Linked DNA regions of Homo sapiens. The protein of the gene in region 2 interacts with the protein of the main gene of each other region in a biochemical or structural test. Each region holds a gene or a part of one and is shown on either strand. Other genes may lie near its edges. The genes, in order: DAPK1 and PPP2R2D.

Region 1 (10,174 bases), on a different chromosome or scaffold from region 2:
TCTTGCATTGCTTTAGGTGTACCTATCCTCTCTGAGGCAGCCCAGTCCTGGATAGACATATGAGGTGCTAGGCAGACAGACAGGCAGCTCAAAGGAAAATCTAATCATTTTCATGAATGGGGAAAAAAAAGAATGGCATTGATGACTTTCTCTACATGTCTTTTTCACCTGGAAAATTCTATACTGTGGGTCAGGTGTCAGGGGTTGTAGTAAGGTCTCAAAAATCCTGACAATCGTGGCCGGGCACGGTGGCTCACGCCTGTAATCCCAGCACTTTGGGAGGCCGAGGTGGGCGGATCACGAGGTCAGGAGATAGAGACCATCCTGGCTAACACGGTGAAACCCTGACTCTACTAAAAATACCAAAAATTAGCCAGGTGTGGTGGCGGGCACCTGTAGTCCCAGCTACTCGGGAGGCTGAGGCAGGAGAATGGCGTGAACCCGGGAGGTGGAGGTTGCAGTGAGCCGAAATCGCGCCACTGCACTCCAGCCTGGGCGACAAAGCAAGACTCCGTTTAAAAAAAAAAAAAAATCCTGACAATCTTTCTAAGGTGAAAAGGAAAAGTTGGACCAGTGCGGCGACTCACACCTGTAATCCCAGTACTTTGGGAGACCGAGGAGGGCAGATCACCTGAGGTCAGGAGTTCCAGATCAGCCTGGCCATCATGGTGAAACCCCGTCTCTACTAAAAACACAAAAATTAGCCGGGCGTCGTGGCGGGTGCCTGTAGTCCCAGCTACTCAGGAGGCTGAGGCAGGAGAATCACTTGACTCAGGAGGCAGAGGTTGCAGCGAGCCAAGAGCATGCCACTGCACTCTAGTCTGGGTGACAGAGCGACACTCCGTCTCCAAAAAAAGGGAAAAGTTTATACAGTTTCAAAAGTAAAAGCAATGAACTAAGACATAACTATTCAACAATGAAAAGTAGTTCATTTTTGTAGGTGAAAATTTATAATATCAACTGCACTTAAAATATTTGCCAGCCAGCCTCATTCATCACATATTTCCTAAATAAGAATAATCAGGCAGTTTTGACAGAAAAATAAAATGTGTCCCAAAAGAAGTCCGTACCTCGAGCCAAATTTCCCAGCCAAAACCCATCAGGCTTATGAATATAAGTGCCATCAATATAAACTTTTCACACTTCAGAGATCGGCAGTTTACAAGCATTCATTTGCTCAAACATTATGTTCTTCGTCCAAAGTTGTATGTGTTTATAAAGGGAAAAAAAAAATCAACAACATTCTCCCAACCTCCTTCCCTCCCCTCCCCACCACTCTGGCATCTCTAATTATATGTTAGGTTACTGAATAAAATTTTTCAAGCTCACAACTGAAACATCGAAAGGTAGTACATAAGGTAAAAGCCCCGTGAACACCAGATGCGGTGGCTCATGCCTGTAATCCCAACACTTTGGGAGGCTGAGGCGAGCAGATCACCTGAGGTCAGGAGTTCAAGACCAGCCAGACTAACATGGAGAAATCCTCTAAAAATACAAAATTAGCCAGGCGTGGTGGTGCATGCCTGTAATCCCAGCTACTTGGGAGGCTGAGGCAGGAGAATCGCTTGAACCCAGGAGGCGGAGGTTGCAGTGAGCCGAGATAGCGCCATTGCATTCCAGCCAGGGCAACAAGAGCGAAATTCCGTCTCAAAAAAAAGGCCCCATGATCACTTCTCAGAAGTAAGCAACATTATACTTCAATGACCACAGTGTGATCCATATGCCACACCAGCTGTCAATGTCACCTAAAGACCAAAGTGACAAACCCGCGTCACTATTGGACCACGCTTGTCAGGTATCTCCAGAGATTAGTTACTATCACATGATTGTTTTGTTTTGTTTTGGATTGGGACAGAAGATAAAACACAACTATTTTAGGTTTTAGATTTTTTATTTGTAAAAACCCACCCAGCACATTAACTCTAGAGCTGGGATACAACTGTACTTACCTAAGAAAGATTTAATAGTTAGAGAAAGTTAGTTTAAATCCATTTTAGTTAGATGATGTGGAAAATCGGAGTGTCAACTTCTTTTTTCTTCCACCTTCTTCTAACTGCACCTTTAAAAAAATTCGTTTATAATAGAATGTACCCAAAGTCATACACTGAATTTATTATAATTGTACTGTCATATAACCTCTTTCAAGGCCGAGAAAGGATGCATTCCATTTGTATAATTTACCCCAACAAACCAGAACAAAACAATTAAATATTATCTTCCACATAAAGTCTCAAACAATCACACACCAACTCTAAGCTAGCCAGACTAGTTGTTGCGTAAGGAAATGAGAAACTGTTGGTCAGTGGCAGGTAGGTGCACGGGTCAGAGACAAGACTCTTAGACATTACATAACTCAAAAGTTAAATAACAATGAAAGTGTTTTTGGAGTTTTCTAAAAAGGTAAACCATTAACTTGGGACTTGAATAAAACTACGCCACATGTTGACATCATTCCAAACTGCAAGGCTGAAGCCATTTGGAAAAGGAAAGAAGGTCCCAGTGTGTCGTTAAGGCCTGCGAAAGTTCTGAGCTCAAAGGGCAGACCCTGTTGCCTTTGGCTGGGCTTCAAATGAAAACCTTCCATGAAGGGTCTACTATTTATCCCTAACCATTTTCTCCATGCAGATGCTGAAATAAATTGGCGCCAAATGGCTGCCTACTTCACCTCTCTTAAATATCAACTTCATCTGGCTTTCAAAGATGGAAAACTGCCAAATCCTAAATAGCACAGATAATGAAATAGGCCTGGCCCTGGGTTCTGGGTCCATGTCTTGCCACCTTTTAATCAGCTGCCTGGAGAAAGCCACTTGACCTGTCTAAACACAGGTGGATAAAATGTGAAGGGAGGCAATGCTGGTCACTCAGCCTTCTTCCAGGTCAAAGTCCCGGCCAGGCACAGCGAGAGGCTGACGCTTATAATCCCAGCACTTTGGGAGGCCGAGACGGGCGGATCACTTGAGGTCAGGAGTTCAAGACCAGCCTAGCCAACATGGCGAAACCCCACCTCTACTAAAAATAAAAAAATTAGCCAGGTATGGTGATGCATGCCTATAATTCCAGCTATTTGGAGGCTGAGACAGAGAATCACTTGAACTGGGGAGGCAGAGGTTGCAGTGAGCCAAGATCGCCCCACTGCACTCTAGCCTGGGCAACAGAGCAAGACTTCGTCTCCAAAAATGCAAAAGGCCAGGCACAGTGATTCATGCCTGTAATCCCAGCACTTCGGGAGGCCGAGGAGGGTGACTCACGAGGTCAGGAGTTCAAGACCAGCCTGGCCAAGATGGTGAAACCCCGTCTCTACTAAAAATACAAAAAATAAGCCAGGCACGGTGGCAGGCGCCTGTAATCCCAGCTACTTGGGAGGCTGAGGCAGGAGAATCACTTGAACCCAGAGGGCGGAGGTTGCAGTGAGCCGAGATCACGCCACTACACTCTAGCCTGGGCAACAGAGTGAGACTCCGTCTCAAAAAAACAAAACAAAATCAAACAAACAAAAAGACACAAACAAACAAAGTCCCTGAGCTCTCTGGGGTACTCTTCCCCAATGGAAACCACTCCCCTCTTGTCAGAAGAGTGGCTTCCTTTGTCTCATAATCAGAAATAAATTTCTACTAAAATAATATTCACTTAATTTATACAAAATGTTAGGTACTCATGGCAGTTGGCTAGAATGAAGGATGAAAGTTCCTAACACATTTCCCTGCTGAGTCAGGCAATGTGACCTTGACCATGCCACTCCCAGATATCAGATATCCAGCAGCTCAGCCCCTCACCCCTAATCATCTGGAAAGAAGTGGTCTGGATTACAACTCTGCTAGGAGGGAAGAGAACAAGGTGGAAGAGCCAATGTTGCCTCTCCTGATATAACACCTGTATACAACTACAGTCAGCCCTCTGGATCTGTGGGTTCTGCATCCATGGATTCAACCAACCTTGTACCAAAAATATTCAGGAAAAAACTGCATCTGTACTGAACATATACAGACTTTTTTTTCTGGTTATTATTCCCTAAACATTATAATGCTACTATTTAGTTAGCATTTACATTGTACTAAGTATTGTAAGTAATCTAGAGATGATTTAAGATATATGGGAAGATTACATCAGTTATATGCAAATACTATGCCATTTTATATAAGGGACTTCAGCATTTGTGGATTCTGGTGTCCCCAGAGGTCCTGGAACTAATCCGCCATGGATACCGAGGGATGAGTGCACTGGAATTTATCTGGACATCCATCTCTGTAGGTTTCTTATGAGTTTTTCATGGCTTTGCAGAGGCATATACCAATGATATGGGGCCTTCAGTTTCCTCATTGGCCGGGGAGACACAAGCTGAGGGTAAAAGAGCATGGGGGACCAAGAAGTGAGCTTCCATGTTCCCTGGCTTCCCGACCAATAAGCACCTCCACCTACTCTGTTCCTGGCCCCCTTGAACCTAAATTTGATGCCTGCCCTAGTAATCCAGCAACACACTCCCAGTGCCAGCAAGCAAGCATTCAACCAAACTGCCACTTACTAACACCATCATGCTTTCCCTTCACATCCTGGAAAATTATTATTAGACCTTCCTAAAATGTACACACTTTTAAAATCACTAACCGTTGCCTTTAATCTATGTAGCTGAACTTTATCTCTCTTAAAACTTTGGACCCTTTCCTATCAGAGGAAACATCTGAGAGCATTCTGAGTCAAAAATGCTAAGAGGAAAAATGTCACATTCAGCACAGTCCTATAAGGATGCAGAAACCCACCGGTGGCCTGCGGTTCCCATTTCTGAAGAAAAAACATGCCAGAAAGTCTCTCCCCTTCTATGAGCCACACAGGGTTGCCATTATTCATAGGACTGACTCCTGCAATCCACAGTAAACCGGTCTAGAGAAGCACTTGGACTGCCAGGGCTTATGACAATTTCTTACTTCAATTAAAATGCCTATGGATTTTATGCCGAAAGGGGAATGTTTTAAACTTGAATTATTAGCTTCCAATGACCATCCAAACCAATGTAAAATATTTAATGCTCCACTTCATTTGTTTTGTTTAAAACTGATCTTGTGCTTGAAAATTTTGGCTGCTGTGCTCATTACTGTTCAGCCACAAAGAATGCAAAAACAAGAGCAGTTTTTATTTTGATGAGCGGCAGCCATTATATCCTAAGTGTTCATCTTCACCACAAGCCATCATTTGTTGAGGCCCTAATACATACATATTCTTTCAAGTTGCTTTACATATATTGATCCACTCAGTCTAGTCTAACAGCATGCATTTACTGAGCGCCTTCTAAGTGCCATGCATCAACCTGGGCATTAGAAATAAAAAGTGAGGAGCAAGTCCAAGGTAATGGCCCCATGGAGAAAGCAGATCATCAAATAAGCAGTTACTATGCAATGTGGTAAATGCTGTGATGGAGAAAACAGGTTATTAAAAATAATAAAAATGATATATTAGAGGCCAGGCACAGTGTCTCTGCCCTATAATCTCAGAGCTTTGGAAGGCCAAGGTGGGAGGACTGCTTGAGCCCAGGAGTTCAAGGTTACAGTGAGCTATGACTGTGCCACTGCACTCCAGCCTGGGAAACAGAGTAAGACCCTGTCTCTAAAATATATATATATATACATATACACACACACATATATATAAAAAACATATACATATATATATATTTTAGACACATCACACTTAGTAGGTGTTCAGTAAATGCATATCTACCTGTAGACTAGAAAGACAGACTGCATGTCAGATGTTTAAAGCCACGTCTGTAATTCTAACAACACTCTACCAGGGTAGGTGTCTCCCCACTTTCCAAATGAGCATTCTCAGGTTTTTCCACACTGCACACTGCCTCTCTAACAGTATCAGCATCAGCATCATCGTTTGCATCTTACATCCCCATTCTGGTCTCAAAATTACACTTGCCAAACTGCATTAGCTCATTGAGGCATGCATTAATCCCAATATTGATCATAGATACCAATTTGCAGGAAGTCTATGAAACCCTGCACACCATGGGGAGAAAGGACCACAACAACTCCAAACCACAGGGCACACCCCAAAGAAACTCACAAGCTGGCTGCAAAGAGTAATACAAGACTAATAAACATGAAACAGGATAAACATGTCACTGGGCAGTCTATGGTCATGGACAAAGAGAGTCTCAGAGAAGTCACTTGACTTTAAAAGGGGAAACTCATTGTGGAAGGATTCATTAAGGAAGTAGGACTTAGGTCTTAAGATCATATAAGGTCAGATGGTGCAATAGGAAAGAAGGCCAGTCCCTCAGGAAAGCAGTGTACACAGAGAGGTGCCCAGGAGGCTCACAGGTTAGGCTGAACGACGGCCAAGGGTGTAACTAGAGCCCGACAATGGGGCAAGTCAGCCTGCAGCTGCCCGAGGTGCCAACTGATAAGAGATGCTAGGGCATCCTGGGGCATTAAAACACCTCGGTATAATAGCAGATTTATAAGAACTCCTCCCAGAGACTATTACACATCATGGAGGCAGTTCTTTGTTCCGCCTCCTGGGACAGAGGGTGAGACCCTAAAGGGCCTCCAGGAGCCAAAACTGAAGGCCACCAAGCACCCTTCTAAAGATAACAAGTGCATCTGCTGCAGGGACTTGCTTCTGCTTGGAGGGTGTGCCAGCTCAAGGCCAGGGCTGCATTATTCAGAATCATAGTGGAGGCTGAATGCTGTCAGCAACCCTTCTCCCCATGACCCTTTTCCTATAAGGCATCCCCTCCCAAAGCTGGTAAACAGAAACTTAAAGAATATTGACTTGCCGGCCAAGTTATTAGCTTGCCTGGGGCACCCAGATGTCTCAGCCAGTCTACAGATAATATCTATATTTGTTTAACTCTCTACTGCTGATCAACTACTTTTACAAGTTAGATTATTTTTACAACAGCAATGAAAAAAGCACTAAACCTCTCATAGAGGAAAATCCTGAGTGTCAGAGTGGGTAAATGGCCTGTTCAAGAAAACTGGCAAGTTGCAGAGCCAGGTTTTGGACCAGGGTATCTGTCCAGTGGCCCATCTGCTCTATTACTGCTGCAGATGGACTGCTGCAATAGTTGCAATACTCTATAAAGTTCCTGACCGTTGACAGAGAGCTTTTACAGAAGTCTTAGGCAGTACACACAAATACGAACATTTTCAATTTTCCTAAAAGTAAAATAACATTAACAATAATACTTGTACTCTACTTCTTCAAAAACCCATCTTTCCTCCTGGCTATGTACTTTGTCTCACTACATTTATAAGGTAAGTGAATCGTTATTATTTAGATGACTGCTAAAGATATATAAGTAAAGTCTTTTTTTTCTTTCTTTTTTTTTTGAGACAGAGTCTCGCTGTATCACCCAGGCTGGAGGGCAGTGGCGCGATCTCCATTCACTGCAACCTCCGCCTCCCAGGTTCAGGCGATTCTCATGCCTCAGCCTCCCAAATAGCTGGGACTACAGGCGCGCGCCACTGCGCCTGGCCAATTAAAGTCTTAAATCTTAGATAATTTTTTTTGTATTTTTAGTAGAGACAGGGTTTCACTATGTTAGCCAGGCTGGTCTTGAACTCCTGACCTCGTGATTTGCCTACCTCAGCCTCCCAAAAGTGCTGGGATTACAGGTGTGAGCCACCTCGCCTGGCCAAGTAAAGTCTTAAATCTTAGATACTGGTCTACTAGTAATTCACTGCTTAGAATGACCTTGCATTTGTGCCACATATCTGCCCATTTCCATTTTCCTGCCACCAAACTCCTGCCTCCACTCCCAATCTTCCCTCAGTGACACGTGATGTCATATAAGCAGCATCTTCCTACATGTCCATTTTACATTAGGACTTGTTTTCAGGAAGTGGCTACATCCAAGGCAGACATAAAATCAGGACTTGAAAAATTTTCCAAAAAACAATCATTCACTCATTTTTTGGCAAAAACAATAGCAGTTATACAAGATAGATGAGTCTGTACATTTCATTTTTAAAAACTTCAGACTTCCAGTTTTTCAGAGCATTTCTTTAAAATTCCTAGGTCACACAAATTATTTAATAAACAATTTGTCAATTTGCCTTGCACAGTGGGGAGAACGTTATACACAAAAATGTACACTGAGCAAATCAAAGTGCTAGTGACAAATAAGTAAGCCACCTCCCTCCCCTCATCATCACGCCCACGAAATAAAGATCAAAAACTCCCTTCGCCAACCACAGGGAGGCCTCTTTTTCTATTTCTTTCTCATAACACATAATGGTACCAAAAAATCATAATGAAAATAAGGTCAATATACTTAATCCATAATATAATAATCTCAACTAATTTTAGTCATCTCTCTTTCTAACAACACTTAAACGATCAGGCCACACTATGCAAATCAAATTAAAATTTATTTTTTTGCTTTTTTCTTCCAGTCCCAAAGGAAAACTCCAAATACCACTCATCTTGCTGAAAACCACAGTAAAGTTATTTAATTCCAGTTAAACCAAATATTTCACCCACACACTCTTAAACTTTAATCTTAAACATATCCATGAAATGTGATGTTTGAAGAGCTTTCCTTATTTACTCACCAGATCATCAATATACAGAGAGCTCTTCCTAAGCACAGGCCCCCATCTATGTTTTCAGTCGATACTAAATATTTAGAGAAATACTCTGTTACAGTAACTTTTAAAAAAATTCTACACTATCATTTGAATTTTTAAAAAAATTTAGTTAAGCTTAGTTTCCATAATTCTCATTAGGCAATCCAGGATGTGGGTGTTTTTTAATTTCCTTTTCATGGAGAAAAAGGAAGCTTTGTATCAGGACATCAGATGTATATGGGAAAATACATATTTCAATGCACATATAAGTAAATACATATTTTGTTTGTTTAAAGATCCTTTTGCCTACTCCACTCACAATGTAAATACACCACAGTCAAATTCCATAAATTCAGTTTTAAATGTATGTATGAAAACTAGGTTTTCTACTAAAGTTGACCAGAGCCCAAAACACTCTGTCTAATACACAGTCAAAGGAAACAGCAATCAGCCCTTAGATGCCCCGAAAGAAACTATTCTTTGTTTACCTAGAAACTGAAAGATTTTACACTGAGAATCACAGCTGCTACAGCAATGGAGGTATGCTCTGAATCCAGATAGCCATATTAGACTCTCATTGATTTGTTAAAAATTTAACATTGTAAATGAAACCAAAGCAACCACCAACACCAACCAGGTAATTAAATTCCTGGTTGGAAGAAGTTTCAAAATCCAAGCCCAATGTCAACATCTGGCAAGTCTCCATTTACCACCTACCAATACTTGCTCAAATTACACTGAAAATTTAGATAGAGGGTAAAGTACTAAGATTTTTAAAACCTATTAATTAGTTTGTACCCTCCGTTTAAATCACACATAAAAGCTAACTCCAATTGCAATTATAATCTTAGTGTTTGTCCTGTTGTCACAGAAGGGCAAGGGCTGACAAGAGTTAGCACGGACAATTAAATCTGATTTTGTCCAGGGGACTGGATCAATATACTGTGCATCATAATCTAGCCCTGAACTGCTGCCTCTCCTCCACCCCCAGGCCCTTGGATCAGGCGGTTTACCGCTGGGTTAGTAACTCTTTTCTCTATGATTTGCGCATCTCCAGAAAGGGCGAGGGAGACGCCTGATTCAAACTGCATTTGTTTACCACCCAATGGCCCCATCGTTATGCATTTCCACAATCCAGGAGGGTACGCTTCTGGTACCCCCTTTACCTGCCAAGTTCCTCGCCGGTGTCGTAGTAATCATCCACGTTTTCCTGCCTGAACACGGTCATGATAAACTGTCACGCCTCACCAAAGCCCAGGGCACTTCAGCTCCGCTTCCCAGACCATCACCACCGCTCCTGCGCCTCCGTAGCCCCCTCATGCATCAGTCTCCAGTCCTTTTGAAGAAAAAAAAAAGGCAATAATAATAGTAAAATGGCAACCCCAAAAGGAAGTAGACCTCCCCGGCGCTAAGACCCCGCTCGCTGAAGACCGGGTCTCCGGAGCTGCCCCTCCTCGCGGGGTGGAGAGGAGCACCCTTTGTTAAAGCTGGGCGGCCAGGGACGCCCCCGACCCCTCAGCCCCGCGCGCGCGTGGGGCCGGGCACCACGGCACCCCGAGGTCGGCGTCCCCAAACGCTGGGCGGTCTGTTGGGATCAGAAC
Region 2 (10,174 bases):
TTCCACTGTCGGGGATCCTGGCCACTGCGAGCCCCGCTGCTCGATTTGGTGTCATCACCGGGCAGCTAGTCTTGTATTTTAAGACACCAGTTTCTGTTATATTAAGAAATACACTAAAAAGGTTCTGATTGGAGATATTTATACAAAATCATCGTACAGGCCAGCCTCAGAAGCAGAGTCCCGGGCACCGGTGCTCCCCGGAGGGCAGTGCCGCCCCCTGGCCAGCTGCCTTGCTGGGCTCTCACTTCCAAAACCCCCGCGGGTTCTGACTGGCACAGGGGTGTGTTTATTCAGGAAATGCGTGCAGGAACTCAGGCGGAGGCGCATGAAATTAGGGACAGATGGGAGCAGATGGGGTGGGAGACTGTCAGTCCTTAAGATAATGTAAAAAAAAAAAACCCTGGAGGACATCAAGTGTGGGTTCCCGTCCTGGGTATGACACCACCACCTGCCCTGGCCAGAGGCAAGTCGCAGCCGCTGTGCCCTTGGGACTGGGTGCTGGCGCCAGAGCACACAAGGCGGAAGGTGAGGCCCGGCCCAGGACGGCAGCGCCTCTGCACCTGTCACAGCTTCGGGGGTGCCGCAGTTCCTAAAAGATCAAGGAGCCCTGGGTGTCCTGTAGGCAGCCCCGCACTGTCACCAGAGATCTGAGGGGCGTATGGGGCACAGAGGCACGGAGCTCAAAGCCAAGCCCAGTATCACCCCAGTGCCCAGCCGGGTGCTGTGGTGTGTGCGTCTGTGACCCATGGCCAGGGTGGCTGTAGGGAAAGCCCTGGCCCAGCGCCCACCTGCAGCAGGCACTTAGGAGGGGTTGCCACCCACAGCAGCCAAACCCCACAGCTCTGCAGGGCCTGAGCTGTGACAGCCCTGTGGGGCTGGGGGTGCTGCCTTTACTCACATCTGGTCTACACTCCACCCACCCCTGCACACCACCTGTGCAGAGAAGCCCACTGTCGGGGACTGCTGAACTTGGCTTTGGCAGGCAGCCCCCTCGGAGGACGGGACCCAAGGGAAGAGCGCGGGGCCCGCCAGGCCCCCAGGCCCAGGCCTCTCCCAGGGGTTGGGGAAGCGTCGGCCGCGGGCAGCGTCTGAAGGTGGTCTGTGGGCCCTTGCAGCTCCACCAGTTTGAGCTGCATTGTCTCCCCACCTGTGGCTGGATTCCTGGCTTGCTGTCTCACCAGCTCACGGACAGCTTCCGTCCCTCTCCCTTGGCGATCCCAGCACAGCAACGACAGGACAGCTCGCCACAGAAGATGCGGCTACAGCCCCACTCAGCACCCCTGGCCCAGCCCAGGACGAGCAGAGCCACGCCCTCATACAGCAAGCCCATCCTGTCCCTTTGCCTGCAGCTCTGGGAAGATGCGACCTCTGCTACCCAGCACAGCCCGGACTCCTGCTGGCTCTGACCTCACTCCCCCACTCCCTGGCTGATGCCAAAGCCGCTGGCCAAGGACGCACAGCACAGGTTTAGGAGAAAGCAAGCTTAAGGCCACCCGGAGAGCCTCCGCAGCCCCAGACCCACTCTTCCTCCCAAGCAAGCAAAGGGGTGATGCAGAGCAGCCGGGCCAGGCGGATCCAGGGCCAGCTTCTTCCGGCCGGGAGCAGGACACACACCAATCCCATGGCACTGGGCTTTGGGAGGCTTCTGGCACTGATGGTGATGATTTGGCTCCACACAGGACAGACAGACACGCACATGCTGCAGTCTCCAGCCACACCTGCCAGTCGTGTGGCCTCCAAAATCAGACTGAGTCTGTCCACGAGGGCATCATAAACTGGTTCATAGGAGCTCCATTTTTCTTTCAAAAAAGGCACGTTAAATCCACTTACGAAGAAAGTGTGTTCATGGAATCCGGGTCATCAGCCCAGAGAGCAGCAAACCTCCACCTGAACCACGGGCCCAGAATCCTCATCAATGAAAACTGTGCTCAGCATTAACCTTCAGAAGCTGATGACACTGTTCTACTTTAAGCAGGAAAGAGAAGTTTTCTCCGCACCTGTTGAGGGCACGTCTTCCTCCGCGCCTGTTGAGGGCACTTCTCTAAAGTGAATGGATCCTGCTTTTTGCGGACATAGGTGCGTGGAATTGCCAGCGCCTCTCAGAACATCAAGACTGCACTGGGGAGAACCCACAGAAACGGACAGGACTGCTGGCCAGGTGGCTTCCCCCGCAGGCGCCCCAGAGCTAGGTGACGACACCTCCAGGGAACGTGCGCCGCAGACCTCAAGGCAGTGGCAGTTCCACGGGAGCAGCAGTGCCACGTGGAACCTCTACACACGGGACCCGCCTGGGCTGCACCTTCTGCTCTGCCCTGGGGGTGGAGGAGGTGGGCTATTTAGTGGGAAATACATTCTAGAGGAAGATGGAAAAGGGTGTCCAAATACGCAGTGAAAATCCAGTTAAACATTTAAAATTTATTGAACTTTTTGGTCAAAATAGTTGAACAAATATATACAATCCCATTTTACTAGAACTGTCTTAAGGACCAGGGTTGACTAATGCTTAAATAACTGTTCCACACCTCAGACTTTGTAAATTGTGTCACAATCAATATACAGTATATAAATTATTTTTTAGTTAAAATAAAGGTACCTTTAGATTCTCAATTTCTAACTTAATGTGAACTCAAGTGGCACTGTGTTAGCATTGATTCAGGGTAATGACGGACATCCTGTTCTTGCCCATGTGGATTAGTAATCAGCACACACCTTCACCTCCACAGGGGGATGGGGGATCAACACACACCTTCATCTCCACAGGGGGACCGGGGATCAGCACACGCCTTCATCTCCACAGGGGGATGGGGGATCAGCACACACCTTCATCTCCACAGTGGGATGGCGGATCAGCACACGCCTTCATCTCCACAGGGGGATGGGGGATGAGCACACGCCTTCATCTCCACAGGGGGATGGCGGATCAGCACACGCCTTCATCTCCACAGGGGGACGGCGGATCAGCACACGCCTTCATCTCCACAGGGGGACGGGGGATCAGCACACGCCTTCATCTCCACAGGAGGACGGGGGATCAGCACACACCTTCATCTCCACAGGGGGACCGGGGATCAGCACACACCTTCATCTCCACAGGGGGATGGGGGATCAGCACACACCTTCATCTCCACAGTGGGATGGCGGATCAGCACACGCCTTCATCTCCACAGGGGGATGGGGGATGAGCACACGCCTTCATCTCCACAGGGGGATGGGGGATCAGCACACGCCTTCATCTCCACAGTGGGATGGCGGATCAGCACACGCCTTCATCTCCACAGGGGGATGGGGGATCAGCACACACCTTTATCTCCACAGGGGGATGGGGGATCAGCACACGCCTTCATCTCCACAGTGGGATGGCGGATCAGCACACGCCTTCATCTCCACAGGGGGATGGGGGATCAGCACACGCCTCCATCTCCACAGGGGGACGGGGGATCAGCACACACCTCCATCTCCACAGGGGGACGGGGGACCAGCACACACCTCCATCTCCACAGGGGCACGAGGAAGCAGCACACACCTTCATCTCCACAGGAGGACGGGGGATCAGCACACATCTTCATCTCCACAGGGGGATGGGGGATCAGCACACACCTCCATCTCCACAGGGGGACAAGAGATCAGCACACACCTTCATCCCCACAGGGGGACAGGGGATCAGCATACCCCTTCATCTCCACAGGGGGATGGGGGATCAGCACACACCTTCATCTCCACAGGGGGACGGGGGATCAGCATACCCCTTCATCTCCACAGGGGGATGGGGGATCAGCACACACCTTCATCCCCACAGGGGGATGGGGGATCAGCACACACCTCCATCTCCACAGGGGCATGAGGAATCAGCACACACCTTCATCTCCACAGGAAGACGGGGGATCAGCACACCCCTTCATCTCCACAGGGGGATGGGGGATCAGCACACACCTTCATCTCCACAGGGGGACGGGGGATCAGCAGTACACACCTTCATCTAGATAGGGGAACAGGGGATCAGTACACACCTCTATCTCCACAGGGGCACGAGGGATCAGCACACACCTCCATCTCCACAGGGCATGGGGGATCAGCACACCCCTTCATCTCCACAGGGGGACGGGGATCAGCACACACCTTCATCTCCACAGGGGGACGGGGGATCAACACACCCCTTCATCTCCACATGGGGATGGGGGATCAGCACACACCTTCATCTCCACAGGGGGACGGGGGATCAGCACACGCCTCCATGTCCACAGGGGCACGGGGGATCAGCACACCCCTTCATCTTCACAGGGAGATGGGGGATCAGCACACACCTTCATCTCCACAGGGGGACGGGGATCAGCACACACCATCTCCACAGGGGGACAGGGGATCAACACACCCCTTCATCTCCACATGGGGATGGGGGATCAGCACACACCTTCATCTCCACAGGGGGATGGGGATCAGCACACGCCTCCATCTCCACAGGGGCGCGGGGGATTGGCACACCCCTTCATCTCCACAGGGAGATGGGGGATCAGCACACACCTTCATCTCCACAGGGGGACGGGGGATCAGCACACCCCTTCATCTCCACAGTGGGACAGGGGATCAGCATATCCCTTCATCTCCACAGGGGGATGGGGATCAGCACACACCTTCATCTCCACAGGGAGATGGGGGATCAGCACGCACCTTCATCTCCACAGGGGCACGGGGGATCAGCACACACCTTCATCTCCACAGGGGGACGGGGGATCAGCACACACCTTCATCCAGACAGGGGCATGAGGAATCAGCACACACCTTCATCTAGACAGGGGGATGGGATGGGGGATCAGCACACACCTCCATCTCCACAGGGGCACGAGGGAGCAGCACACACCTCCATCTCCACAGGGCACAGGGGATCAGCACACACCTCCTTCTCCACAGGGGCACAGGCAATCAGCACATACCTTCATCTAGACAGGGTGACGGGCGATCAGCACACACCTCCATCTCCACAGCAGCAGGAGGAATCAACACACACCTTCATCTCCACAGGCGGACGGGGGATCAGCACACACCTCCATCTCCACAGGGGCACGGGAGCCCGACTCCCCACTCCCCTCGGGGACACGTAGTGGGCGTGTGTTAAATCCCACGGAAGCAAGCTCTGGTCACTCAGCATTGGTACAGCTCTGTATTATTTGTCTTGGAAAATCTTGATTTCTGGTATCAAAGATCCTACTTTGAAAATAAACCAACGTACTGGTGGCATCGTGTAATTAAAATTGCTTAATTTTGCTGGCTTGAAATGCAGGATGAAATTTAGCATGCATGTAATTTTAGCAATGTTTAAAAAGTATACTTTCCCCAAAGTGCTTTTTCAAAAGCCTTAGAAAGCAAGCACGTATTTCTTCAACTGTAGTGAATTTGAAGCTACTTTAAACCAGGCTTACTGGATGGCAGCAATTTTGGTTCTTCCTTGCAATTTTCTTTCTCAGAGGTGGCCTCGGTTCTGGCTTTTCCCAGACCTTACCTGGTGTATCTGATGGGCTACTTCTACAGAAACACAGCGGGCAGCAGCTTGGGGACAGAAATGCTGCACACATACCCCCACGCTGCCAAAGAAGGACACACATTTCTCAAACAGTTAGTTCCAAAGAAGAACCCTGCATAACTTCATTCTATGCAATAAAATTAAATAAAAAGACAATACTTCTGTTTGGATTTAAAAACACTTTATAGTGTGTTGTTTTTATTGAGCGCTCACACCCGAAGGGGTGGCGGCGGATGCTGTGGGTGAGTGGGGCCGCCTGAGCCTGCTCGGGCCACATCCACACATCCACAGAGTCCACCTGGACTCGGAGGAAGGCCGAGAGGACACGGACGGTGGCCACACCACGCTGCAGTGAAGGCCCAAGTGTGATGGCAGAGAAAGAGGGAAAGTTGGAGAAAGAGCGGTATCTGACAATAACTTTTCTCTTGGATGTTAATTTTTTGGTCTATAAATTGGAAAGGAAGGCTCGGACTGAAATAAATACATTTATTCTGAGTAATGACCTTTTGGGAGCAGTGTCCGTCAACTCTGCTTCGAGAGCGTCTCCACGTGAGCAGCAGCGCCTGTCTCGCGCCTCGCCGAGGCGGAACCACACCGGGCCTCCAGCGGAGGCGGCTTTCTCCTGTGTCTGTGAAGGGAAGTAGCAGGTGCGTCACTGTTCTTAATGGAGCGGACAATGATGCCTTTTCTCTGACAGAAAAATGTCCGGCTTAACTATGCAAGACAAGACTTGGTCCTCACGTTCGCGTCTCTAGTTGATTTTGTCCTGGAATATGTACAAGTTATTGGTGGCAGCCACGGCAATGACATTGTCCACGGGGTGCCAGGCTGTGTGCAGGATCTTCTTGTTGAAGTCCAGACTGTCCACACTGATCTCGTCTTTCCTCCGCTTACCCCCCGTACACACCTTCCGGGGTTTGAGGCTGGCGCGCGGTTTGCTGCTCTCTCTCGAGGCCTCCAGGGTCACATCCCTCCGCGTGTCTCTATCAAACATCCTGAAGAAGTTGTTATAGGACCCGGTCATGATGGCGCTGTTCAAAACAAGAGCAGACAGCAGCACTCCTCAGTGGGGGGAGCGGCAGCAAGGACTCAGACCCCACCCCTGGGGTGCACAGCGCACGCCACCCTCCCCCACAACCCAGTTACTTTCAGAAATCAGGAATGATCAATCACAATGGGCAGAAGAGAAATGCAGTGAAAATGTGTACCGAGCTTTATCTATAATCATGTCAGTAAGAATCCATGTCACAGGAGAAACAAAATAATGGAGTCACACTTTTAACATTAGTGTATTTTTTGAAACAACCCCACCTATTTATCTCACTCATGAATAACAGCACAGTTTATTTTTAAGCCTTATGTTCTGCAATTTGTCAATGATCCATAATGACCTGAACATAATCCTTATCATGTTCAACAGTTACTAGTCATATCTGTCAATGTTTCTTTGGAGTTAAACTGCTTTTCTATTAATTTCAAAAAGTTTCTTTCAAATGAGGCAACGGATAGAAATAGTAAAAATCCACTGGGCAAAGTGTGGCAGAATTTTAGAACAACTGCATTTCACACACATTCCAGACAATACAATACCGTCCATGCTTTTGTTTCTTCAAGATCAACTGTAATGGCTTTCAAATGTCTCTGCTGTCGAAAAATTCTACTACCGCACACATCCTCATGATATAACTTCATAATACTGGTAAAAACCTCTGCAATCTTACATTTTCTACAAAAATGACAGAAAAATAGCTGAATGATGCAAACGCTGCCATGATTTGACCCATGGCTTCATGAGTCCAGTTTCTGATGAAAGATGTGTTCAAACAATGCCCTTCTGGTTTCTCCAGCCGTCCTTGAAGCTCGCCTCCTCTTCCTATTTTGACACTAACCCGCGCCCTCACGTCCTGCCCCCATGGTCATGCGCGGTGAGAGGCCTTTCACGCTGGCGCGTCTTCAAGGTGCCATGAGAAAGAAGCGGGCCGCTTCCCTTCCATGGCCCAGCACTGACCCTGGCTGCTGGCAAATACCTAGTGTCTGACTGACCTTGTCTAAAACTTCAAAGCAGGGGAAAAAAAAAAAAAAAAGACGAACTCAGAGAAGAGAAACTGCATTCAGCGATCCATGTTTATTTCCCATCTCCTGCTTCCATCCAGGAGCCCACAGCGCCACAGAGGCGGGAGACACAAGGTGTGCCCAGCGCCCTCCAGCAATGCCAAGCTGTGCACGTGGTCTTGGAACAGGGGTATGCAGCCAAGTTGGCACGTGAGGGCCATTGACTGGGGGTTCCCCAAATTAGTTTCCACATAAAACACAATGTTTACGAAAGGGTAAGTAATAAGAATGTGTGAATCTGAAGCTTACATTTATGTTATTAAAACTCAACAGTAACCATTATTCAGAACACAGACGACAGATGATGTATGGCCGACACTGACTGGAATTGCTGGTGCATGGTAATAACGAAAAGCACATCAGCTTTCATACAGATTTATGATCACTTTTAAATTCTCGACAGATAGTGCCAGCCCCAGAGTGGGTGTTTCCACACTGCAAACAAGGGCGCTGCCCAGCAGCCTGGTGCTGGCCCAGGAAGGGAACAGCACAGACAGAGACACAGGCGTAAGCACATAACTGGTTCTGTGGGGCGACCTAGAACACAAGAAGGCGCTGCCACACGGAGAATCAGGATTGGGCTGAGGCAGCACTGAAACGCCTCACTCCCCTTCATCGCATCCCTCAACAGAAGTTTCCAGGTAGGAAGACTGGCGTGTTTTTGAGAGTGAATGGACTAAGCAAATGTTACTGGGAACGCTTTTAGATGTTCTTGGGGATATGTAATCTAAGGGTATTTTGCAATATTTGAAATATATCAAGAGGAATAAAAAATACAGTGACTATCCATGTACCCGCAAGTCACTGCTAAGACAGTGAACCCCCCGCACACTCGCAAGTCACTAAGACAGTGAACCCCCGCACACCAGCAAGTCACTAAGACAGTGACCCCCCCACACACCCGCAAGTCACTGCTAAGACAGTGAACCCCCCGCACACTTGGAAGTCACTAAGACAGTGAACCCCTGCACACCCGCAAGTCACTAAGACAATGAACCCCCGCATACCCGCAAGTCACTGCTAAGACAGTGACCCCCACACACACAACCACAAGTCACTGCTAAGACAGTGAAACCCCCTGCACACCTGCAAGTCACTAAGTGAACCCCCCGCACACCCACAAGTCACTAAGACAGTGAACCCCCGCACACCTGCAAGTCACTGCTAAGACAGGGACCCCCCGCAAGTCACTGCTAAGACAGTGAACCCCCCACACACCTGCAAGTCACTGCTAAGTGAACCCCCCGCACAACTGGAAGTCACTAAGACAGTGAACCCCCGCACACCTGCAAGTCACTAAGACAGTGAACCCCCGCATACCTGCAAGTCACTGCTAAGACAGGGACCCCCCCGCAAGTCACTGCTAAGACAGTGAACCCCCCCACACACAACCGCAAGTCACTGCTAAGACAGTGAAACCCCCCGCACACCCGCAAGTCACTAAGACAGTGAACCCCCGCAAACCTGCAAGTCACTGCTAAGACAGGGAACCCCCGCAAGTCACTGCTAAGACAGTGAACCTCCCACACACACCCGCAAGTCACTGCTAAGACAGTGAAACCCCCTGCACACCCGCAAGTCACTAAGACAGTGAACCCCCTGCACACCCGCAAGTCACTAAGACAGTGAACCCCCGCACACTCGCAAGTCACTGATAAGACAGGGACCCCCCCCGCAAGTCACTGCTAAGACAGTGAACCCCCCACACACACCCGCAAGTCACTGATAAGACAGGGACCCCCCCCGCAAGTCACTGCTAAGACAGTGAACCCCACACACACACCCGCAAGTCACTGCTAAGTGAACCCCCTGCACACCCGCAAGTCACTAAGACAGTGAACCCCCCGCACACCCGCAAGTCACTAAGACAGTGAACCCCGCACACCCGCAAGTCACTAAGACAGTGAACCCCCACACACCCGAAAGTCACTAAGTGAACCCCCCCGCACACCCGCAAGTCACTAAGACAGTGAACCCCCCGCACACCCGCAAGTCACTAAGACAGTGAACCCCCCGCACACCCGCAAGTCACTAGTGAACCCCCCGCACACCCGCAAGTCACTAAGACAGTGAACCACCCGCACACCCACAAGTCACTAAGACAGTGAACCCCCCCGCACACCAAGTCACTAAGACAGTGAACCCCCGCACACCCACAAGTCACTGCTAAGACAGTGAACCCCCGCACACCCGCAAGTCACTAAGACAGTGAACCCCCGCACACCCGCAAGTCACTAAGACAGTGAACCCCCCCCACACATGCAAATCACTAAGACAGTGAACCCCCCGCACACCCGCAAGTCACTAAGACAGTGAACCCCCGCACACCCGCAAGTCACTGCTAAGACAGGGACCCCCCAAGTCACTGCTAAGACAGTGAACCCCCCCGCACACCCGCAAGTCACTGCTAAGACAGTGAAACCCCCTGCACACCCGCAAGTCACTGCTAAGACAGTGAACCCCCCCGCACACCCGCAAGTCACTGCTAAGACAGCGAACCCCCCTGCACACCCGCAAGTCACTGTTAAGACAGGGACCCCCTGCAAG

What was found.
Region 1: of the proteins of PPP2R2D (region 2) and DAPK1, one has a biochemical effect on the other in vitro, tested with the Homo sapiens proteins (one study listed by BioGRID).

The regions. Positions count from the first base shown.
Region 1 is NC_000009.12:87,498,705-87,508,878, reverse strand, and holds part of DAPK1 (death-associated protein kinase 1), read right to left. Parts: intron 9,910-10,174; 5' UTR 9,802-9,909; coding exon 9,740-9,801; intron 1-9,739. UniProt on the Homo sapiens protein: Calcium/calmodulin-dependent serine/threonine kinase involved in multiple cellular signaling pathways that trigger cell survival, apoptosis, and autophagy.
Region 2 is NC_000010.11:131,952,056-131,962,229, reverse strand, and holds the end of PPP2R2D (serine/threonine-protein phosphatase 2A 55 kDa regulatory subunit B delta isoform), read right to left. Parts: intron 6,547-10,174; coding exon 6,267-6,546; 3' UTR 2,396-6,266; downstream 1-2,395. UniProt on the Homo sapiens protein: Substrate-recognition subunit of protein phosphatase 2A (PP2A) that plays a key role in cell cycle by controlling mitosis entry and exit. Involved in chromosome clustering during late mitosis by mediating dephosphorylation of MKI67.